7 linked regions of the Homo sapiens genome follow. The protein of the gene in region 4 interacts with the protein of the main gene of each other region in a pairwise test. Each region holds a gene or a part of one and is shown on either strand. Other genes may lie near its edges.

The links.
Region 1: the proteins of TMEM237 (region 4) and OPRD1 interact in binary tests that used the Homo sapiens proteins (3 or more experiments, as listed by UniProt).
Region 2: the proteins of TMEM237 (region 4) and CLN6 interact in binary tests that used the Homo sapiens proteins (3 or more experiments, as listed by UniProt).
Region 3: the proteins of TMEM237 (region 4) and MS4A13 interact in binary tests that used the Homo sapiens proteins (3 or more experiments, as listed by UniProt).
Region 5: the proteins of TMEM237 (region 4) and TMEM11 interact in binary tests that used the Homo sapiens proteins (3 or more experiments, as listed by UniProt).
Region 6: the proteins of TMEM237 (region 4) and ST6GAL2 interact in binary tests that used the Homo sapiens proteins (3 or more experiments, as listed by UniProt).
Region 7: the proteins of TMEM237 (region 4) and CNIH3 interact in binary tests that used the Homo sapiens proteins (3 or more experiments, as listed by UniProt).

What each region holds. Positions count from the first base shown.
Region 1 is NC_000001.11:28,860,670-28,864,169, forward strand, and holds part of OPRD1 (delta-type opioid receptor), read left to right. Parts: intron 1-2,072; coding exon 2,073-2,614; 3' UTR 2,615-3,500. UniProt on the Homo sapiens protein: G-protein coupled receptor that functions as a receptor for endogenous enkephalins and for a subset of other opioids.
Region 2 is NC_000015.10:68,219,729-68,223,228, forward strand, and holds part of CLN6 (ceroid-lipofuscinosis neuronal protein 6), read right to left. Parts: intron 1-3,500.
Region 3 is NC_000011.10:60,521,892-60,525,391, reverse strand, and holds part of MS4A13 (membrane-spanning 4-domains subfamily A member 13), read right to left. Parts: intron 1,496-3,500; coding exon 1,439-1,495; intron 186-1,438; coding exon 66-185; intron 1-65. UniProt on the Homo sapiens protein: May be involved in signal transduction as a component of a multimeric receptor complex.
Region 4 is NC_000002.12:201,623,095-201,626,503, forward strand, and holds part of TMEM237 (transmembrane protein 237), read right to left. Parts: intron 3,054-3,409; coding exon 2,932-3,053; intron 1,229-2,931; coding exon 1,161-1,228; 3' UTR 1-1,160. UniProt on the Homo sapiens protein: Component of the transition zone in primary cilia. Required for ciliogenesis.
Region 5 is NC_000017.11:21,207,662-21,211,161, reverse strand, and holds part of TMEM11 (transmembrane protein 11, mitochondrial), read left to right. Parts: exon of another isoform or gene 1-226; intron 227-3,500. UniProt on the Homo sapiens protein: Plays a role in mitochondrial morphogenesis.
Region 6 is NC_000002.12:106,841,168-106,844,667, reverse strand, and holds part of ST6GAL2 (beta-galactoside alpha-2,6-sialyltransferase 2), read left to right. Parts: exon of another isoform or gene 1-410; intron 411-633; 5' UTR 634-690; coding exon 691-1,633; intron 1,634-3,500. UniProt on the Homo sapiens protein: Transfers sialic acid from the donor of substrate CMP-sialic acid to galactose containing acceptor substrates.
Region 7 is NC_000001.11:224,738,317-224,741,054, reverse strand, and holds the end of CNIH3 (protein cornichon homolog 3), read right to left. Parts: intron 1,727-2,738; coding exon 1,699-1,726; 3' UTR 501-1,698; downstream 1-500. UniProt on the Homo sapiens protein: Regulates the trafficking and gating properties of AMPA-selective glutamate receptors (AMPARs).

The sequences.
Region 1 (3,500 bases), on a different chromosome or scaffold from region 4:
TCAGAGAGGTCAGGTGGTTTACTTAGGGTCACACAGCCAGGCATTTTGTGGAATTTGGCCTGCAACCTAGGGTTCCTGCCCCCAGGTCTGTTACTCCTTCTAGTCCCTTTTGTGGAAGTTTGCAGAGGGTTGATGCTGTGGGTGGGAGAGAACAAGCTTCTTGGTTACCTTTGACCCTCACAAGGGCAGAGTCCCTGGTGCCCTTTTATAGCCTGTGAGCCATTGGCCTTGACTCACAGCAGAGCCCCATTCCTCACTGTCAGCCTTCAGCTTACGGGCCATTAACTGCATCCCTCCTGGGGCTGGACCAGATGGGCCTCCTCACTCCACAATCCCTCACACACACACTTTCCCAGTGTGTGCCATCAGCACTTATTGAACCTGTGGGCCACTTGCTGTGTGACCTTAAACAAGTGCTGTTCTGGTTCCTATACAATGAAGGTCTTGGATTCAGTTACTTCTAGGGGTCCTGCCAGCCTGATGTCCTGTGGACCCACTCTGTCTGTGGATCCCCAGCCCCTTCTCACTTCTTAGCCTCAAGTCCATCGTGTGGCTTCTTAAATCCTAGCATTCCAAGAGATCCTGGGAGTCCCCTGGGCCAGCCTCAAGGCTGTATCAGAATCCCACAACACCCCCTAAGGTGTTCATCCAGCCCAAGCCCACACTCCAGGAATGGGGAGCTCATTTCATCCTAGGCACCCTTCCTATCTCAAGAAGGAAGTCCTTGAGTTAAGCTGAAGTCTGCTTTCCTCCCAGAAGGAAGGAAGTTTTGTTTTGTTTTTGTTGTTGTTTTGAGACAGGGTCTCGCTCTGTCACCCAGGCTGGAGTGCAGCGGCACTATCCCAGCTTACTGCAGCCTCAACCTCCAGGGCTTAAGCGATCCTCCCACCTCAGCCCCCCAAGTAGCTGGGACTGCAGATATGCACCACCATACCCAGCTAATGTTTGTTTTTTTTGTAGAGATGGGGTTTTGCCATGTTGCCCAGGCTGGTCTCCAGCTCCTGGACTCAAGCAGTCCACCTGCCTCAGCCTCCCAAAGTGCTGGGATTACAGGCATGAGCCCCATGCCTGGCCAGGAGGTTCTTGTGATTAAGCTGAGACCTGCTTCCCTCTAGGGAGCCTGACCCTATCCTTGAGTCCTGGACTCCCCCACATATATGCCCCTCTTTCCCTGTGGGTACGCCAAGAGCTTGAACCCCACTATGCTAAATGCTTTAGGTACCTTAGCCTTTTCTTTTCTTTTCTTTTTTTTTTTTTTTTGAGACGGAGTCTCGCTCTGTCGCCCAGGCTGGAGTCCAGTGGCACGATCTCGGCTCACTGCAAACTCCACCTCCTGGGTTCACACCATTCTCCTGCCTCAGCCTCCCGAGGAGCTGGGACTATGGGCACCTACCACCATGCCCGGCTAATTTTTTTGTATTTTTTTTTTAGTAGAGATGGGGTTTTACCGTGTTAGCCAGGAGGGTCTCGATTTCCTGACCTCATGATCTGCCCTCCTCGGCCTCCCAAAGTGCTGGGATTACAGGCGTGAACTACCGCACCTGTCCGCCTTAGCCTATTTAATCCTTACGACAATCCTGGAGATGTGGGTACTGTCATTAGCCCCACTCCACTGAAGCTCCAAGAGGTTTAGTAATTTCCTTACACTATGTAGTAGGGCCTGAGTCCTGCTCCTAGCTCATGTTGTCTGTCTTAGCAGTCCTGTCCCCAATGGAGCTAGTTTGGAAATGGGTCAAGGTGCTTTGAGTTACTGCAATGACTGGCATTCAGTGGGCTGAGCTAAACGATTTCATTACGGCCACCCATGGACACAAAGGCTGAAAAGGGGCCAGGAGAGAACATAGGGGACCTCCCTGATGAGGGCCAATCCTGCTAGGTCTTTACGGATAACTAAGAGTTCACCAAGTACCGAAGCCGAGGAGGACACTCCAGACAGAAGAATCCCCTTGAACAAAGGCTGGGAGGAGGTGGTGGGACTTGCCCAAGCCTTGAAAGGGTGGGCAAGCAGGTGGGGGCCCCTTAGGCACACAGGCCCCTCACCCCGTCTGTCTTTCCTTGTTTCCGCGGCCCAGACGGGGCAGTGGTGTGCATGCTCCAGTTCCCCAGCCCCAGCTGGTACTGGGACACGGTGACCAAGATCTGCGTGTTCCTCTTCGCCTTCGTGGTGCCCATCCTCATCATCACCGTGTGCTATGGCCTCATGCTGCTGCGCCTGCGCAGTGTGCGCCTGCTGTCGGGCTCCAAGGAGAAGGACCGCAGCCTGCGGCGCATCACGCGCATGGTGCTGGTGGTTGTGGGCGCCTTCGTGGTGTGTTGGGCGCCCATCCACATCTTCGTCATCGTCTGGACGCTGGTGGACATCGACCGGCGCGACCCGCTGGTGGTGGCTGCGCTGCACCTGTGCATCGCGCTGGGCTACGCCAATAGCAGCCTCAACCCCGTGCTCTACGCTTTCCTCGACGAGAACTTCAAGCGCTGCTTCCGCCAGCTCTGCCGCAAGCCCTGCGGCCGCCCAGACCCCAGCAGCTTCAGCCGCGCCCGCGAAGCCACGGCCCGCGAGCGTGTCACCGCCTGCACCCCGTCCGATGGTCCCGGCGGTGGCGCTGCCGCCTGACCAGGCCATCCGGCCCCCAGAGCGCCCCTCCCTAGTGACCCGGAGGCCACATGAGTCCCAGTGGGAGGCGCGAGCCATGATGTGGAGTGGGGCAGTAGAAGGTCGGAGGCTTGGGACCGCCAGATGGGGCCTCTGTTTCGGAGACGGGACCGGGCCGCTAGATGGGCATGGGGTGGGCCTCTGGTTTGGGGCGAGGCAGAGGACAGATCAATGGCGCAGTGCCTCTGGTCTGGGTGCCCCGTCCACGGCTCTAGGTGGGGCGGGAAAGCCAGTGACTCCAGGAGAGGAGCGGGACCTGTGGCTCTACAACTGAGTCCTTAAACAGGGCATCTCCAGGAAGGCGGGGCTTCAACCTTGAGACAGCTTCGGTTTCTAACTTGGAGCCGGACTTTCGGAGTTGGGGGTCCGGGCCCAGGACCCAGAAAGGGCAGTGGTGGGGACAGTTGCTTGAAAACTGAGCTGCAAGACTGGGCCTCTGTGTAGTAGGGAGGAGCCTCCTGTGAGGGGAGACCCAGAGACAGGACAGCTGGGTGTGGCTACAGCTGAAGATTTGGTCACCAGATAGGGCGCCTGTGCAAAGGGCCTGTGGCCTCATCTTTGGATACGGGATACAGTCCCAGCCCTGAGTTCTAGCAAGGGGCAAGGCTCGCTGAGGTCCAGGTCCGACTTGACACCTTTATAAATAGAATATAAAAGACTGAGGGGCCAGGCGTGGTGGCTCAAGCCTGTAATCCCAGCACTTTGGGAGGCCGAGGCAGGTGGATGGACATGAGCCCAGGAGTTCGAGACTAGTCTGGGCAACATGGGAGACCCTGTCGCTACAAAAAATACAAAATTAGCCAGGCATGGTGGTGTGTACCTGCAGGCCTAGCTCCTTGGAAGGTGA
Region 2 (3,500 bases), on a different chromosome or scaffold from region 4:
CACCCACCTCCCTATCAGAGTCCAAATCCTCTTTACAGAGTCCCTGCAATTACTTGCACACCTCCAGGGACAAGCAGCCAGCCACATCCTAAGAGGACTGAGGTGTGGGTTTCATCGTCTCGTTTGTGCCAAGAACAGGCGCCATGGACCACAAATCTGTATTCCTCCAGAGTTCTGAGCTCAGGCCCTGGTCCATGCTCAGCAACTACTGGCTGATTAAAACAGTCACAACGACCAGTTACTCCTTTTGTAGTGGCAAACATTAGCTTAGAGGCACTGCAAAGACTGTCTTCTGTCGATACTGCTGTTGCTTCCCTAATTTTCTGAGATCCCTTCCTGCCAGTTCCAAGGATGATCCATACTGGCTGGTAGAGTACCCCAGGACAGGGAGGCAAGCTCTTGGGAGAAATCTCATTTTCTAGTGGCAGGCAAGACAGGTTGGGTAGGCCTTCCCTAGGTCAGCTAAGTCTTCCTGTCCCCTCTACTCGGTATCTTCCACCCCCTCACTGAACACCAACTATGTGCAATGCTAGGTCTTTACCTGCACTATCTCATCTAATCCACGCATCTGCTTTACAGATGAGGATACTGAGGCTTAGAGGGATTAGGTGCTTAGCCAAAGCCACCCGTGTAGTAAGGAGCTGTGGCAACAATTCCTTTTGTCAGCCTATTTCCCACCCACTGCTTCTTCTGGTAAGACATGATATTTTCTTAGCCACAGGAAGGGCCAGTGATCTAGACTGGCCCAGTGGGACTTTTCCAACTGCAGGTGAGGAAAAGAGCTCCTTCCTTTATAGTGCTGGGTTCTAAGGGTGCAAGCCCAGGACTGCCTACAGCCAAGGTTCCACCCTCAAGGGACATCCAGGTAAGAATGAAGTAGCCTCGCAGAGAGGATCAGGGAAAGGGGGAGAAAAAGTGCTGACAGTGTTCATGTTGCCAGTTCATGATCTGGCCATATGAGCCAACACATTCCTTTTTGCTAAGGATGGTGCAGTTCACACTGGCTTTCTGTCACTTGCAACCCAGTCGTCCTGAATAACACACACAATTCAAACCTGGGTTTATGTTAATTCAAGACCTGTGCTCTTAATAGCTTGCTATTCTGTTTTTTTGTTTTGTTTTTTGGAGACAGGGTCACCTAGGCTGGAGTACAGTGGTGTGATCACAGCTCACTGCAGCCTTGGCCTCCCAGGCTCAAGCATTCCTTCCACCTCAGTCTCCTGAGTAACTGGGACCACAGGTGCATGCCACTATGCCCAGCTAATTTTATTTTATTATTATTATTATTATTATTATTATTTTTTGTAGAGATGAGGTCTCACTATGTTGCCCAGGCTGGCCTCAAATTCCTGGGCTCAATAATCAACCCACATCAGCCATCCATAGTGCTGGGATTACAGCTGTGAGCCACCATGTCTGGCCAACAGCTTGCTATTCTGTTTTTGATTACTAGGCTTATCAGGAGATCAGGTTAGAAAGGGATCTCCCTCCCCCCTCCCCCAACCCTCCCCCTCTCCCTCGCTTCTTCCTTCTCCCTCTGTTGCTGAGGCTGGACTGTACTGCCGTGATCTCAGCTCCCTGCAACCTCCCTGCCTCGGGCTCCCGTGATTCTCCTGCCTCGGCCTGCCGAGTGCCTGGGATCGCAGGCACACGCCGCCACACCTGACTGGTTTTTGTATTTTTGGTGGAGACGGGGTTTCGCCGTGTTGACCAGGCTGGTCTCCAGCTCTTGACCTCGAGTGATCTGCCCGCCTCGGCCTCCCGAGGTGCTGGGATTGCAGACGGAGTCTCGCTCACTCAATGCTCAATGTTGCCCAGGCTGGAGTGCAGTGGCGTGATCTCGGCTCGCTACAACCTCCACCTCCCAGCCGCCTGCCTTGGCCTCCAAAAGTGCTAAGATTACAGGCTCTGCCCGGCCGCCACCCCATCTAGGAAGTGAGGAGCGTCTCTGCCTGGCCGCCCATCGTCTGGGATGTGAGGAGCCCCTCTGCCCGGCCACCCCATCTGGGAGGTGAGAAGCGCCTCTGCCCAGCTGCCCATCGTCTGGGATGTGAGGAGCGCCTCTGCCCGGCCGCCCCGTCTGGGAAGTGAGGAGCGCCTCTGCCCAGCTGCCCCGTCTAGGAAGTGAGGAGCGCCTCTGCCTGGCTGCCCATCGTCTGGGATGTGAGGAGCGCCTCTGCCCGGCCGCCCCGTCTGGGAAGTGAGGAGCGCCTCTGCCCAGCTGCCCCGTCTGGGAAGTGAGGAGCCCCTCTGCCCGGCTGCCCTGTCTGGGAGGTGAGAAGCGCCTCTGCCCGGCTGCCCATCGTCTGGGATGTGAGGAGCGCCTCTGCCCGGCCACCCCGTCTGGGAAGTAAGGAGCCCCTCTGCCCGGCCGCCCCGTCTGGGATGTGAGGAGCCCTTCTGCCCGGCCGCCCCGTCTGGGAGGTGAGGAGCCCCTCTGCCCGGCCGCCCCATCTGGGAGGTGAGGAGCACCTCTGCCCAGCCGCCCCGTCTGGGAGGTTAGGAGCCCTTCTGCCTGGCCGCCCCATCTGGGAAGTGAGGAGCACCTCTGCCTGGCCGCCACCCCGTCTAGGAAGTGAGGAGCGCCTCTGCCTGGCTGCCCATCGTCTGTCTGGGAGGTGAGAAGCGCCTCTGCCCGGCCGCCCCGTCTGGGAGGTGAGGAGCGTCTCTGCCCGGCTGCCCATCGTCTGGGATGTGAGGAGCGCCTCTGCCCGGCCGCCCCGTCTGGGAGGTGAGGAGCGCCTCTGCCCGGCCGCCCCGTCTGGGAGGTGTGGAGCACCTCTGCCTGGCCGCCCCGTCTGGGAAGTGAGGAGCGCCTCTGCCCAGCCGCCCCGTCTGGGAAGTGAGAAGTGCCTCTGCCCGGCCGCCCGGTCTGGGAGGTGTACCCAACAGCTCCGAAGAGACAGCGACCATTGAGAATGGGCCATGATGACGATGGCAGTTTTGTCAAAAAGAAAAGGGGGAAATGTGGGGAAAAGAAAGAGAGATCAGATTGTTACTGTGTCTGTGTAGAAAGAAGTAGACATAGGAGACTCCATTTTGTTCTGTACTAAGAAAAATTCTTCTGCCTTGGGATGCTGTTAGTCTATAACCTTACCCCCAACCCCGTGCTCTCTGAAACATGTGCTGTGTCCACTCAGGGTTAAATGGATTAAGGGTGGTGCAAGATGTGCTTTGTTAAACAGATGCTTGAAGGCAGCATGCTCGTTAAGAGTCATCACCACTCCCTAATCTCAAGTACCCAGGGACATAAACACTGAGGAAGGCTGCAGGGTCCTCTGCCTAGGAAAACCAGAGACCTTTGTTCACGTGTTTATCTGCTGACCTTCTCTCCACTATTATCCTATGACCCTGCCACATCCCCCTCTCTGAGAAACACCCAAGAATGATCAATAAATACTGAAAAAAAAAAAGAAAAGGATCAGCGTGGCCTAGGGCAATACACAAAGCTTGCATGAGGGAAGGGAGCCTCAAAGCACGGATGGATGAATCTAACTAGG
Region 3 (3,500 bases), on a different chromosome or scaffold from region 4:
GATTTCAAAATTATTAAAAAGAATAATTTTAAAATTAATATGTTCCCATAGAATTGGTCACTTACTGCTTGTCCATAATTCCTGTATGACACAGAATTAAAATGAGACAACTCTATTATTGTTAGAGTTACTGCAGTAATTGTAGTAATTATGCAGATGATGTTTATGATTAAAGTACTTATAATCTGAAAAGGAGACAGAGGGCAAATTTATTATATTCAGAATAAACATTTTGGTGTAATAGTTTGCATTGCTGAAAAAACTCATCTAGTTAAAACTTTGATCTAGTTTCTGAAGTCTTAGAAGTATTAAATATTAAGAAAATATTTTTCTGATTTATATGAAGCCCAGTTAATCTGGAGGAAACATTAACACCATCAGTCCATTAATCATTAATCTTCCATTTAGGCTAAAACATATTGTATTTTTTGGGGCCGGGCGCAGTGGCTCACGCCTGTAATCCCAGCACTTTGGGAGGCCGAGACGGGTGGATCACGAGGTCAGGAGATCGAGACCATCCTGGCTAACACGGTGAAACCCCATCTCTAGTAAAAATACAAAAAAATTAGCCGGGCTTGGTGGCGGGCACCTGTAGGCCCAGCTACTTGGGAGGCTGAGGCAGAATGGTGTAAACCCAGGAGGCAGAGCTTGCAGTGAGCCGAGATTGTGCCACTGCACTCCAGCCTGGGTGAGAGAGAGAGACTCCATCTCAAAAAAAAAAAAAAAAAAGTATTGTGTTTTTCAATGTTATAGGTCATTTGGAAGAAAGCATATAAGATATGATTTGGACAAAAGTGGTTCCACTGTAAGAAAAAAAAAAAAGTGGAAAATGACTGCTTGTAGAAATAGGAGTCAGTTGATAAAATTTTAATCCTGGGTTTTCATTATCTAAGGAAATCTATCAGTATCTTCAGACATCATTTTTTTATCTGTAAAATTATGAGGGCAGACTAATTTCTAAGGTACGTTTTAGCTCTAAGATTCTAAAGTGTTCTTCCCAATTCTATCCACCTATACCATGCATGGATCTTTAATCTGGACCAATTCTGTACTTTGTTACAGGACACAATCTTGTTCCCAAACTGGATAGTTCAGAAAATGAAGTTTTACAGTAGTATAATGTCTATATCTAAAGGCATTAGGTCCTATTAAAATTTTTTAATTATAAAGTTTACACAATGTTAAAAGGCAGAACATCAAACAAAACAAAAACTATATATACATTTAGAAACCTATACATAAAGTAATCATGATTTTAACCAATACAGTATATTTGTCTATATTAAATTATGTTCTTCTAGATTCATTCTTAATTCTTTCATTTACTTTACAGGTAGGGTAGATTCCTTCATTGTTTAGACGTTATATTTTCATTAAAACTTAATATTTAGCTTTGTGATAAGTGATTTCTAGAGATACCTCAAACATTTCAACTTACTCCAGATCGAGTCGGATACTTTGTTACTCTTATTAGGAAGACTCCTGCAATGATAAACTGGATATAAAAACATATTTATAAATACTCATTGATAATGCTTGCCAATTTAGAATGTACTTTTAATAACTCTCTTGTAAGTCAATTATTTTAAGAATGCTAATAGTAACAAAATATACAGAAGTTTTAGTAGATGGGTCAGGACAAATTTACATCATGTAGTAATACATTGAAAGGTAATAGTAGAGTCACTCATAACAGAGACACATAGGGGACAGTGGGCAGATTCACACTGTGATAATATGCCAGACAGCCTAAGCAGTCCTGACCGGGAACCAAGTTTGCTTTTATGTGTATGAGATACATCATATATAACTCATTTGATTATTGCTTTTAATGTTATCCTTCCTAATGAGATGATGACACTACTTATGATTACTATGTACATATCCAAATATGGAAAAAGTGGTTCAAGAATCTATTCCATATTGTGATGGTACAAAATATGCAGTCTCTTTTATGAGATTGTAGTCATTATTAAGGTAATGGCAGAAATTCATGCCTTTGCCTTTGTTTTTTAAAACAGAGGTTCCATTATTTCATGTCAGGAAGTCTGTCTACTTCCAAGAAGTATAAAACTATGCCATATTGTTTGAAGATGGGTTGCACAATTTCCTCAAAGTATTCCTTATTTGTTTTATTGATAAGACACTAAAGATCCAAGTCAAAGGCTATTTTTGTCATGCTATACACTATATGTAGGAAGCCCAAACCTGAAGCTTACAAACTTCCCATGGATAATTTTAAATCTATTTGTTCAGCACTTCATTCCACAACAAAAGCTGAGATTTCTAAGGAGGTACACAGTGAACGTAAGAACTAGCTCAGAATTTAAAGTGAAAATATCTTGTGAATTTTGAATTAGAGTGCTCTCTAATGAGATTATCTTTCGATTACTATGTGTTTTACAAAATGCCTTTCAAAGTTTAGGCTTAAGTGAGAAGTTTAGTATTAAATTACATTTAGTTGAAATTTTAGATAAGTTATCCTAGGAGTTTAATATACTATTTTTATAATATGAGTGGTCAAACACTAAGGAAAATGCATCATTTATTTGGATTTTGTTGGAAAATCCACAGTTTTTCTCCTCTTTTTTAAGGTAGTGCTTTGACACTTGTGACCCAGTGCATCATTTATCATTTATCACCTATGAACCAGTGCATTATTTATGAGCCATTCATCTTTTATGAACCATGTATCATTTATCTGGATTTTGTGCAAAAATTCAATATTTTTCTCCTATTTTTTCAAGGCAATCCATTGACACTTATGAATTAGTGTATGTATAAAAGTGGGAGACCTCCTAGAGATCATTGTTTCTTCTAGTGATTAATTGCTGTCTCAATGGGCAGCCATATTGTATCCTACAGCCCTCATTCCATCTGTTCGAAGTGTGGGATAAGTGGTTTCCTTGCTCATTATTGCTATCCAACCATTCTTTCTCCTCCACCTTTGAATCACATGTCAGTTTCTATAACTCACTATCCTTCATGGTTTAAGTAATCTATTGACCCCTTGGCCATTCCTCTTTTCGAATGAATTGAAATTTTGACTCTCTGATTCTCTCTCCAACATCACTTAATATTTGGTGATTTTTACACACACACACAAACACACACATACATATATATGTGTGTATATATCTATATATATACATCTATCTATCTATCTATCTATCTATCTATCTATCTATCTATCTGTCTGATCTTTTGATATGGTTTGGCTCTGTGTCCCCACCCAAATCTCATCTTGTAGCTTCCATAATTCCCATGTGTTGTGGGCGGGACCCAGTGGGAGATAATTGAATCATGGGAGCGGGTCCTTCCCATGCTGTTCTTGTGATAGTGAATAAGTCCTATGAGATCTGATGGTTTTAAAAATGGGAGTTTCCCTGCACAAGCCCTCTCTCTTTGCCTGCTGCCATTCATGTAAGATGTGACTTGCTCCTCCTTGCCTTCTGCCACAATTGTGAGGCCTTCCCAGCCATGAGAAACTGTAAGTCCAA
Region 4 (3,409 bases):
AGATTCCCAGTATAATGTTCACTCCAAATTTAGACCTATTGTCAGGGTCAACTGTCTCTATCATCAATTTGTCAATCCTCTTCTGTTCTATAACATTCAGGTGCTTGCTAATCAGGGCAGGCTCAATAGTTTTATTGATGTGCTCAACAGCCTTTGAAACATTTTTTCCCATAGCTAGTCTTCTCCTCAACTTGAGCTTTAGGGTCTCATATACAACAGCTGAGGTACCATTGGATATAGTTCTGAAGAGATCTTTCCCAGTGCAGGACCCATCTCAAGAGGGGGATTTCCTGGAAAACCAGAAACCTCTCTGACAAAGAGCTGGAGAACAGAGATGGTGAATTTCTACTCCTATTTCTTGTCACTCAGAAAAAAGGGACAGAGGAAAGGGTACTGCAGATGTCAACTGGGAGCCCACAAGCTCACAGGTCTCTCCTTTATTCCCCTGAGCCTTGCCCTGCTCAGCCTCTTTTGCTACATAGATTTTTAAAATCTCCCTCTATGATCCTGATGTACAACCAGATATGAGAACCACTAGTACAGATTATAATGAGAAGCAACTTTTTAGTTACTTCTAGGTAAAAAATTTAGGTTATATAATTTTTCAAACAAAACATACATTCCCTTTTTATTGGTCATAATGTAGAGCATCTTTCAAGCTAAATTATATTATAATTATTACATGATACTCAATCACTAAGCCAGTTTCAGAAAAGACAAACTTCATATTTCAATTTATTCAGTAAGGGGAGGTCAAAAATGAAGGCTTTTTTCCCTTCTACCATATTCGCTAAATTTATGTTTAAACCTGATATATATTTTATAACACTATTTAAGTTATGGCTTTTTCTAAACCAGTGCTTTTTAAGGTAATAGTTATAAATACAACTGTTTTGAGAAAATAGGAAATAAACACTTTCACTTGCTGGTTTCTAGTTCATTATTCCCTTTGTCATTAAGATGATAATGCTAGACAAATTAATGTTTAGACATAAACAGCAAACACAATTTTAACATTTTTCATAATATTGAGAGATGTTTCAGTATTATATAATCAAAAAATCTATTACAAATACACATGTATACATCTTATAAAAATACATTTAAAAACAAAAATGGGACAAATACTGGGTCATTATTCCTCCAAAGGTGAGCTGGTATTATGAAGAGGCTTTGATTTCTTTCTCTTTATCAGGATATTCTTCCACCTCTGAGGAGAACATTAACTCTGGAGAAGAAAATGAACAGATCATACTTAAAATTGTTTCCCAGTACCTCCAACAGAGTTGTATAGCTTATTTATAAATAGTCCTTTAAAAAATTGACATAATATATACTAATAGAAAGCCCTCAAGTAAGATTTCTTGACAGTGAAATATGATTTAAAAGGTAAGCTGATAACAAATGTACAAGTTTTACATTTTAAAATATTTAAATTTTAAATTATAGACCCCTTAAAAGTAAAATGTAATAGAGACAATATACACAATCCTACCTGGAAATTTAAGTCACTTAGAGAATCAAAGATCATTAAACAGCTAAAATGTCTAATTCTACAGTGATCAGATCATCTGAAACATAGGGGACAGATACAGAGGAAGGACTTGGAACTAACAAGAGATGTGTGCCAGGATATTTTAAATGGGTCATCCCATTTAATCATCAAAACAACGCAAGAAGCCAGGTATTATCATCTCATTTTATACTTACTTTTTAAATCCACATGTTGTATGACTAACATGGCCTTAAAAGAACAGGATTCTGGAAATATTTAGACTGAATACTGCACAATCCAGATGCAGTTTTGATCCCAGCCACAATGTAGAATGTTATTAGCTGACATTTTCTACATTTAAACTATTACTTAGCATAGATGTTGGCGAAATTCTGCATGCTAAGGCTTCTGAGGCAGATAGGTTGTAAATAGTTGGTCAAATAAAAAATAAAATAATAACCAAGACCCAGAAAATATCCATAAAAGATGTTTGGCCAGGCGCGGTGGCTCACGCCTTAATCCCAGCACTTTGGGAGGCCGAGGCGGGCGGATCACGAGGTCAGGAGATTGAGACTGTCCTGGCTAACATGGTGAAACCCTGTCTCTATTAAAAATACAAAAAATTAGCCGGGCGTGGTGGCGGGCGCCTGTAGTTCCAGCTACTCGGGAGGCTGAGGCAGGAGAATGACATGAACCCGGGAGGCGGAGCTTGCAGTGAGCCCAGATCGAGCCACTGTACTCTGACCTGGGCGACACAGCGAGACTCCATCTCCAAAAATAAAAAATAAAAAAAAAAAGATATTCAAGGGTAAAACTGTTGAACATTGGCCAAGGAAACACAATTTACAATACAAATACTAAACAGTTCCTCAAGCAGCATAAAAGGTTAGCAGTTTGCTAATATGATGATTCTTCTTCAGGTGTTCCAAAAGGGGTCTGGGGACTAGAGATGAGTGAATCACTGCACACTGAGCATGTTAAAAGAGTACTAAACACTGTTAGCCAATGAACGGTTAAGAATTTGTACCAAATAGAGAAGGAAGAATAATTGACTTGAGTATGTGTCCGACAGAGAGGCTATGTAGACAAAGCATGATTTATTTCAAAATTCATCAGCAGGAGACTAAGAGAAGTGAAGAGCAAAGACTTTTTCTACATTACTTGAAGGGTTCCAAGAGAAGAAATACCTCCTGAAAATGCACAAGGGCCACAGAAGCCCCTCATTAAGTAGTTCCAGACTCAAGCCCTCCTAGACACTCCTCCCTGCTTCTCTTGGCATTCTGTTACACCACTTTATTTTCTCTCTTCTTGTATCATTTTAATTTAAATGTGTCTTTGTTATTGGAATATTATAAGCTATACCTATTAAAAGGAGGTTTATAAAACCATTATAGAAGATTTCAGGATATTCTTATGCTATTTTTTTTCTTTAATACCTTCACTAAGATCCATGCCTGGCCTATAAGACAAAAATAGCCAAGATAATCCAACCAGAAGAGCCACCACGAGATTCACCACAATCCATGGCTGGAGAATCTGTTCCTCAATTCCTGCTTCCCTAAAAATGTAGAAACACTCATTAGAAGTGCCTTCAGTTTGGTTCATATACACAAATATATCTATTTTATGAACTTTAAGAAAAAACAGCAGTCCTCTCCTAGAGAAATAACAAGTAAAGTGTGAAAGAAAATATAATTTCCCTGTAAAATATACCACATATATAATGAGAACAAGGGTTCAAAGGTTATTTAAACTCTGAACAGATCTGCTGTATACATTCATATAAATGCAAAGTTAGTATTCCCAAGAAAATTCTCTAAAAGTTTTCCTTCCAACTACCATGACATTAATCCTCAATAAAGTATCTTTGCTTTCTCTTTACCTAATGTCCCTAGCCACTCTCTCAAAAAAGAC
Region 5 (3,500 bases), on a different chromosome or scaffold from region 4:
TTCAGCACACTGGCAACGAGCACATCAAACAGATTGCCACTTGTCCTGTCGGCGTCTTTGAGACACACTTGCCCATCTAGGAAAGCACAGTGCAGGTATCTGTGTTCTGCCACCGTGTGCCAGCCCGGACCAGCTCACAGACAGCCCTGCCTGTCTTACTTGGGCTGCTCGGCTTCACTGTCTCAGGGCCCCTGAACCTCCCAGAGCCCTCCGTGATTGTTGGAATGTGAGTATAGCTGTGTGCTCTTGAGTTCCTGTTTTTATAATCACGTGAAGATGTACTTGATCTGCTTCTGAGCATGATATGAGGCAACCTGGGGTGTGCAGAGGGCCAGATGCACGGGGCTAAAAGTTCAGGTTTAGCGCGAAGTTATTTGTTGTGGCCTGCCCCTCCCCTGGCTTGCGCGGCCATCTGCTCCAGCGTTTTATAGGCAGCCAGTTCCCTGGGCTGACTTTCATGGCTTTCCTTGCCATGCTTTATTCCCCAGGACCTGTCCTCTTCTTTGTGAACTCAGGTGTGCCTGGTCCCAGGTGGCCCTTACACGTTCATCCAGTGAGCAGATGGAGCACAGGCCCCGGGGGCAGGTTGGGTCATGGTCCCGGGGTGACAGCTTCCCTTTCTGATCTGATCCTTCCCTTTTAGACTCTCAGGCTTTGGGAGTATTTAATCTCTCTTGAAAGACTCCATGCTTGCTTTTGTGTGTGGCGGGAGTTTTTGTTTCCTTCTGGCTGGGATGAGATGAGCAGATACGGGATCTGCACCCAAGTGTGTGGGGGTTTAGCCACTGGTTGTGGGATTCTGCTCAGCTCTTTAACAAAGGCAAAGCCACATGTTCTGGCCGCAGAAGTTGGATTCGTAGGTAAGGATGGGGTTCATCCTCTTCAGTATTGATGTGCCTTCAAGTTTTCAAGAATTTCTGTTTTCCTTGGTTCACTCAAGCAGCCTGGATTCCAAGTGCATTAATTTGTGTCTCAGTGGTTCAGTCCTTTAGGTCATGTTCCAGGGAAGGCTCCCCTTTCTGAAGAGGGGAGGGCTGCGCCTGGGTCCACGGAGGTGGGGAGGTGGCTCCTCTGCCCCGGCTTGTCGGTGTGCACCTGTTCTTCAATGAGCGAGGTGCGGGGGGTGGAGTTGGGCAGCACTCCATGACCGAGCACACCCGGGAACCTCCTGACTGCCACGGTGTTCCGCCCTGGTGCCAGCAGCCACTTTATGGGCACAGTTCTCAGGAAAAGCTGACAGCCATGTAGTAGTCATAACAGTTCTTCAGAGCAGGGCTGTCCAGTAGGAGTTTCTGGCATGACAGACTCCTGGCGTGTCCCTGCAGTCCATTAGGGCAGCCATTAGCCACGTGTGGCTCTGAGGAACTGAGGTTTCATTTATTTATTTATTTTATGAGACAGGTCTGGCTCTGTCACCCAGGCTGGAGTGCAGTGGTATGATCTCGGATCTCTGCAACCTCCGTCTCCCTGGCTCAAACCATTCTCCCACCCCAGCCTCCCGAGTAGCTGGGACCACAGGCATGTACCACCACGCCCAGCTCATTTTTGTATTTTTTGTAGAGGCAGAGTTTTCACCATGTTGTCTAGGCTGGTCTTAAAATTTGTGGGCTCAAGGAATCCACCCGCCCTGGCCTCCCAAAGTGCTGGGATTACAGGCGTGAGCCACTGTGCCCGGCCAGGAACTGAATTTTTTAAGATGTCTAATTTTAATTAATTTAAATTTCAACAGCCACATGTGTCTTAGGCAGAGGGGCAGTGCTTGGCGACTGTTCCCATCTTCACTGCAGTCCTCTGGGAGAGCCAGGGCCTCTGGCCCCGTTTGACAACATGGGAAACTGGCTCAGAGGGGCCGGGTGTTTTGCCCTAGGACACAAAGCCAGTAGGCAGCCGAGAGGGAACTTGAATCCACCCTCTCGACTCCCACACTTGGTGCGCCGTGTTCCTGCTCCCCAGATAGAAGGGCTGCTGAGTTACCAGTGCGCAGAATAGGAAAGTGTCCTCTGAAGCAGACGAAAGGGCTGGGTGTCCTGTGAAAGTTCCTTGGCCTGTGGGAGCCGTCCTCAGGCCATGGGGCCGCATGCCCGTGCCTTTGAGTCTGGGGCACGGGCTTTCACTGCTTCAGTCCTCTGCTTTCTGTGGGTCCCAAAGAAGCAGGGCTTAATTAGGCAGAAGCGGGTGGAGGTCCAGCCCAGCACCTCCTGTATCATAGGTGATCAAGTGACCCTTTCACTAAGTGAAAAGCAGCCTGACGGATGGGTTGACTTTTCTGGTACCAGTTCTCTTAATAACCATAATTGTTTTTCTCCTCCTGTGACTCCTGTGGCTCATGTCTGTAATCATTACAAATGTCCCTCCAACCTGTGTCTTTTGGGAACCTGTTACATTCAGGCCCAGTGCTGGGGAAACTACGATGAAAATGCAGCCTCTGCCCTCATGGAGCTTCAGGCCTGCCTGTGAGCCCGGGCCCCACTCCAAGAAGGGGCCTAATGTGGATGCTTCCACTCAGATTTGCCTCTGCTGGGTCTCTCAGAACTGGGAAGGTGATTGGTGGCTGGCCTGGCAGCTTAGCCAGTGTTTGCTCAAGGGAAACGGAGCTGGAACTGCCCTCCTCTTTTTGGGCAGGACTACAGGTACACACCAGCATGACACCTCAGCCATGAGAAGCTGCCCGCGTCCAGACTTCTGCCTTTCATGGACACCGAGAAGGTTCTGGAGCAGGAAGTGAGCCACCTCCCGCTCTTCTTGGCAGTGGAAGGAGGCCCTCCCACGGGTATCTGGTCCCTTTACCTCAAGGGATATAGGGTTGAACAGAATTTTTCTTTTTAAGAATAAGTTTATAATTATTTTTCCTGTTATAAAAGAAACACTTTGGCCGGGCGCAGTGGCTCATGCCTGTAATCCCAACACTTTGGGAGGCCGAGGTGGGCGGATCACGAGGTCAGGAGATTGAGACCATCCTCGCTAACACAGTGAAACCCCGTCTCTACTAAAAATACAAAAAATTAGCCGGGCGTGGTGGCGATTGCCTGTAGTCCCAGCTACTCTGGAGGCTGAGGCAGGAGAATGGCGTGAACCCAGGAGGCGGAGCTTGCAGTGAGCCAAGATCACGCCACTGCACTTGAGCCTGGGCGACAGAGCGAGACTCCGTCTCAAAAAAAAAAAAAAGAAACACTTTTTTTTAAAAAATATAGAAAAGCATGAAGAAATTGACAAGTCACCTATTAGGCCACCATCCAAAGAAAACCACTGTTGATCTATTTTCTTGTTTCTTTTGAGACAATGTCTCGCTCTTGTCCCCCTGGCTGGAGTGCAGTGGTGTGATCTTGGCTCACTGCAACCTCTACCTCCTAGGTTCAAGCGATTCTCCTGCCTCAGCCTCCTGAGTAGCTGGGATTACAGGCGCCTGTCACCACACCTGGCTAATTTTTGTATTTTTAGTAGAGACGGGGTTTCACCATGTTGGCCAGGCTGGTCTGAAACTCCTGACCTTAGGTAATCCG
Region 6 (3,500 bases), about 95 Mb from region 4:
AGGCACCCTGAAATAACATTCACCCACAGACACAGTCACTGAAGCATTGCTTTATTCAGTGCCATCGGTGGACTTCTGGTATGTTCTAGGCAGCCTTCCAGAATGGGGAGAACAGGAAGAATCAGATAGGGTTGTCACTCCTTAGAAGTGCACAGCAGCGCTGCTGTAAAATCTATGAGCTCTGAGCTTTCGGTGGTCTGATAGGCAGACAAAAGGGGCAAACCATGCTTACCTCTCTGGCTTTGCTTTATCAAATTGGAATTTTATCATCTCAGAAGTAGGGGGAACTTGTGGGCAGGGGCACTACTGTCTATCAAAGTGGGAAGGCAGACGTGTCCCTGAGTCACATGGGGAGGATTTTGCAAATATACACCCATCCATCGCCTCTCTCCAAAGACTCACCTGAGATGGTGAGATCCCTTGTTTTGCAGAGGTTGGTGGGAGGTGGGGGGCGGGGAGGGGGACAGATATGACACCTGGATTTAGCTAAAACTCCTGGATGATTCTGGTTTCTAGTGCCCCTTCTACAACCCCACCCCACCACCTACAGAAACACTGCTCAAGATAGAATGTCCCCAGCAGCATCTGAGCAGATGCCCCATGTTGGCTAACTGCCATCTGGCTGTTTTTCAGGTTCATTCTGCCACCCATCTGCATTAAGACACAAGGTGCTGACCGCAGAGACCTGCCATGAAACCACACTTGAAGCAATGGAGACAACGAATGCTTTTCGGAATATTCGCTTGGGGGCTCCTCTTTTTGCTGATTTTCATCTACTTCACCGACAGCAACCCCGCTGAGCCTGTACCCAGCTCCCTCTCCTTCCTGGAGACCAGGAGGCTCCTGCCGGTGCAGGGGAAGCAGCGGGCCATCATGGGCGCCGCACATGAGCCCTCCCCGCCTGGGGGCCTGGACGCACGCCAGGCGCTGCCCCGCGCCCACCCAGCCGGTTCCTTTCATGCGGGGCCTGGAGACCTGCAGAAATGGGCCCAGTCCCAAGATGGGTTTGAACATAAAGAGTTTTTTTCATCCCAGGTGGGGAGAAAATCTCAAAGTGCTTTCTACCCGGAGGATGACGACTACTTTTTTGCTGCTGGTCAGCCAGGGTGGCACAGCCACACTCAGGGGACATTGGGATTCCCTTCCCCCGGGGAGCCAGGCCCACGGGAGGGGGCTTTTCCGGCTGCACAGGTCCAGAGGAGGCGGGTGAAGAAGAGGCACCGGAGGCAGAGAAGGAGCCACGTGTTGGAGGAGGGCGACGACGGCGACAGGCTGTACTCCTCCATGTCCAGGGCCTTCCTGTACCGGCTCTGGAAGGGGAACGTCTCTTCCAAAATGCTGAACCCGCGCCTGCAGAAGGCGATGAAGGATTACCTGACCGCCAACAAGCACGGGGTGCGCTTCCGCGGGAAGCGGGAGGCCGGGCTGAGCAGGGCACAGCTGCTGTGCCAGCTGCGGAGCCGCGCGCGCGTGCGGACGCTGGACGGCACCGAGGCGCCCTTTTCTGCGCTGGGCTGGCGGCGCCTGGTGCCCGCCGTGCCCCTGAGCCAGCTGCACCCCCGCGGCCTGCGCAGCTGCGCTGTCGTCATGTCTGCAGGCGCAATCCTCAACTCTTCCTTGGGCGAGGAAATAGGTAGGTCTCAGCGGGGGGACCAGGTCGCCCTGTCTTGAGCCAGTGTGTCCCTGGGGGCCGGTTCTTTCTGAGCGCGCCTCTGGATCTCTGACGGGGCAAGCTGGGGTCTCCGCACCAGGTGTTCCTAATATTAGCTGGAGATTCTTCAGGTGCTTTCCCATTGCTGGCACAGAATGAGTCTGCCTGGGGTCACAGCAGAAGTACTCTTCGGGAGACTCTTAGAGCAGGGATTTGGGGAATGCTAGGGAGCAGGAAGGGTCCTCCCCATAGCTGATGCCAGTAGGCAGTGGAAGGAAAGCGCCGCCCTTTGCCCCCGGCGTCCTTCTCACTGTTCAGACTTCGTATCCCATAGAAACCGCAGTCTGCATGGATATGCCCCCAGGCTGTGGCCCCTGAAAGCCCGGTGAACCCATCCTGCAGTGGGAATATGGGAAGGGAACAAGAGGAGGAGGCAAGAAAGCAGAAGCTGCCCAATCAGGGCGTCAGCTCCAAAGAGCAGGGTGCATGAAGATAATATTGGTTACTGTGAGCTCTGAGAAGAGCCCAGCTGCTGTTGGGAACATCTTTCCCATGGGAGAATAAGTTCCGGCCTCCCAACTGTTGGCGCAAATCCAACCTTTGGGGCACTGCCAGTGCACCTACCAGGGACCTTCTCCAAGATGGTAAATAACATGCAACACCTGGGCTTCCTCCCTCCCTGCCAGGCTCTGCCTTCACATCCCTGTCAAGAGCCCTGGAGCACATGTTTCCCAGCTCCTGTATCAGTCAGGGTTCTCCAGAGACTCACACCAGGAGGATATGTGTCTATACAGAGACAGATTTATTTTAAGGACTTGACTCTCATGATCGTGAAGGCTGGCAAGTCTGAAATAGGTAGTGCAGCCCAGCAGATGGGAAACTCAGGCAGAGTTTCTGTGTTGCTGTCTTGAGGCAGAATTGTTTCTTTTTTAGGAAACTTCAGTCTTTGTTCTTAAAGCATTCACCTGGCTTGAGGAAGCGCACCTGCATTTTGAGAGTCGTCTGCTTTTCTCAAAGTCTAGTGATTTAACTGTTAATCACATCTTAAAAACACCTTCCCAGCAACATCTGGACTAGTGTTTGACCAACCAGCTGGGCACTGTGGCCTAGCCAAGATGGCACACAACATTAGCCATCACTATTTCTTCCTAGTTTTCAAGTAAAATACCAATTCTAATCTTTTTTGATTGATGGGGCCATGGCAGGGTTCAAATACGTTTCCCTCCTGCAGAGTGGTGTAGGTTCTGCACCAGATGGGCCTGCATTGGCTCTCCTCAGAATTCCCCTTCCTCGCTGGATCACATTCATTTCCCCACCTGCCCCAGACTCTCACCCTGTCTTGCCAGAGATACCCAGGCTCTTGTGTTGCCATAGCTGGGCTCTCCCTCAGCAGTTTCAGATCCCTTTGCTCCCGGAACCCCCCTTCTTCCCAGGCTAATTCCACTGCTAGACCAGTCAGCAAGCAGCTTGGCCCTTTAGGCTCATTCATTTGACAAATATGTGTTTAGCCCCTAATATGTGCTTGATTCTGTACGAGGAGCAGTAAAACAAATGTGAGTCAAATACAGCGTCAGCCTCAAGTCCAGATATAAAACAATCATGTCCTGTACACTCTCACAGTAGGCGTTGTTAGGGCATAACTGGTCTGGAAGTGACATTCCGGGAGTGTTGCTCCCTCTTTGCAAATAAGTAATCTTTGTTGTCTTCATTTTAAGCGGATCCATTAGTTGTTCTGTGTCCTTGAAGAGTGGCCTATGTTCCAGAGTTCTCTCGGAATAGGGTGAAGCCACTGTAGGCAGGCTCAGAAGCCCAGATCTCAGCTCAGCAGAAGTCCTTGGGCATGAGGCTG
Region 7 (2,738 bases), on a different chromosome or scaffold from region 4:
GTGTCTCCTATTATGAGCCACTACAAATCTTTCTGAAAGAAGACAGAGTATAGAAACAAAACAGCTCCATGGTGAGAAGTAACACAGACCATTCACCTTCTACATCCAGTTGCATTTGCAGGACGGCTGTGCGATTAGATTAGCGTCTGCAGCCTGCCATCCAAGGCTTGCCTCTCTGGATGAGGGTCACTAGTCTTCTCAGGAATGAAGCCAAAGCCAGGCCCAAGCAGCCGAAAGGTAACTCTATCCCTAACAACAGTTACCTGGTCGGTAAAAAGGGCATTGGCCAAGAGGAAGCCTTCTCCCAAAATCATCACCTCAAATTCTCCAGTTTTATACCATAAACCTCAGAGTAAAAGTCTGCATTTTGTTTTCCACAGAATTTTTAGCAGCATGATGCCTTTTTGAAAATTTGCCTTTTCTTCCTATCAGTTTTCCAACCATATGTAGACAAATTCAGCTGTAATGGTTGAAATGAGAGAGCCAGTTAAGTGAGACACTCAAGTTGTCGCTGCATTTTAATAAACATAGCACACAATGTGTTGCTACACAAACACCATTCATAAACCTGAGTCACAGGTTTCAGATGGGAGCTGGGGACGTGTATAAATAGCCTGTGTATGTTAAACAGTAGAAAAGAAAAGAAGTTTGGGGAATAAGGTCAAAATCATTGTGCCCAATTTAAACATCATAAAAATCTCAGCCTTGTCATTATTTACAACCCCCAGCATAACTCCCACCCAAAAGAGAATGCCAAACGGAAAATTCTAAATAAGATGATGTCCTCACGTCGACCTAAACAGTACAAATGATGCAGCATCATAAAACAAAGTTATAATTATGTTGTCTCACTTCCTGGCTGCCGGATGCCCACGGTACAGAGCAGCCACTCCACAGGATTTTCTGAGCTCTGAGCTGTCTGGGGTTTTTGTAAGAACATAGCTTTGACTAGCATTGACCAATTGATTTGCATTTAAAGACTCTGTGATGGTTTGAGGTGGCAAAAGAAGAATACAACTTGTGTGGTGGAGAACTAACACCTTGATCATGTTGCAAACGTTTCAAAAATGCATTTTTCCTATATTCACCCCTCCTCAGCTGAAAATAGCCCAGCAGGCTCAAGGCTGGTTGCAGCTGAAGACAAATCCCACACACCCTCCAGCCCCTCCCATTTGAGAAAAAGGGCATGGCCATGGCTTGGAAGAAAGGCAACAAGAGTCTTGGGCAGCCAAGACATTCTCGAGGCTTTCAACAGGTCCCTGCAGACTTGGCCTTGACTCTGGGTCATTCTGTTCCTTAGCAAGCACCTTGTGGCCTTCCAGCCTCCGCTCCCAGGAACTCATTTGAACTTGCAAGGTGCTGTTCAATGAAGTGGATTCAGGAAGCAGCAATTCTCTCTCAGGAGAGGTCTAGTGTTTCGTCACCTACTCCCCCACACCACTGATGCTCAGAAGGGCTCTAGGACCCCGTGTGTGGAATTCGAATGCCAAAGATTGACAAACAGGGTGACACAGACACGCAGGGTTAACTCGGCTCCCAGCTGCTGCGTGATTCCAGCTCCCATTCAGTCTGACTGCCTGCCGGGTCTATTTCTCACGTATCCTCATTCTGGTCCCTCCTCCAGTCACCAGCAGAAATGCACCTCTCCGTCTCAGGCCTCTCCCATCTCAGTCTCTGATGATGTGCATGGTCTTTGCGTTAAGAGCTCACTAAAGTGTAGATCATGCTGAATGCAAAAAAAAAAAAAAAAAAAAAAAAAGAGAGGAAGGTGTTAGTAGAAGCCCACAGAGGACTCAGGCTGCCCCTCAGGAGAGGGACCTTCCAGAGGCCAGACCCCTTGGCTTCTCCCTCATTCCTGTCACTACAGCATCTCGCCAACTCCACTACTGTGCCCCTTCTACTTCCCACAACACTGGAATAAAAATTTTTTGGGAGAGCATATTGTATCCCTTGGATAAAAGATGTGAAAGCTCTAAGTGCCTATTATCATTCTCATCAGGATGATGATTATGGTTGTTTTCCTTTTTGTGCAATTGCAGGGCAGGTCTGGGGGTGGAGGTGGGGGTGCAGTGGATTCTTTATGCCACCAGCTGCCATGTGCTTGCATGATGGCTGTGTCCAGGGGCTCCCAGATGATGCTGGATAATACGGTAGTGCTGGGGGAAAGATCATCATCACTACTGCAAAGGCCAGCGTGGGAACATAAGCCCTCTGGGCACCAGAACTCAATGAATTCTTGATTGGGTAACTCCCTGGCCCTCTTATTTTTAATGGACTCCAGGAATTAAACATGCATTAAAAGTGTGTGACCTAAAGTATTGCCCCAATACTACTAAGAGTGGGGTGAAGGGGACATGTATCCCTGTGCGCTTAGTAAGGGCTTCAGGGTAATTTTGCAAGGCTGAGGAATGATCTGCACCAAAATATACCTCTTTGTCTATTTCGCAGAAAAAGAAACCAACTATCTTTTCACATTATAGTGAGAAAAAAAGATTCATCTAAGAAGTAAAACCAAAGGAAAGAAATGAAAAGGTTTGACTTCTAACCCTTTGCAGCTGTGGATGCCCAATGAGCTCCTCTGAGTAGCTCAAGTTCCATCTTCAGGAACCTCACACACCTCATGTACACAGAGAACCACTGGTCAGACCTGGAGCAAGAGGGACTTACTCTACTTGGGGAAGCTGAGGGCCAGATGAGGAGTGACAGCAGGGCGAGAAGCCACATTCTAACTCCAAAGC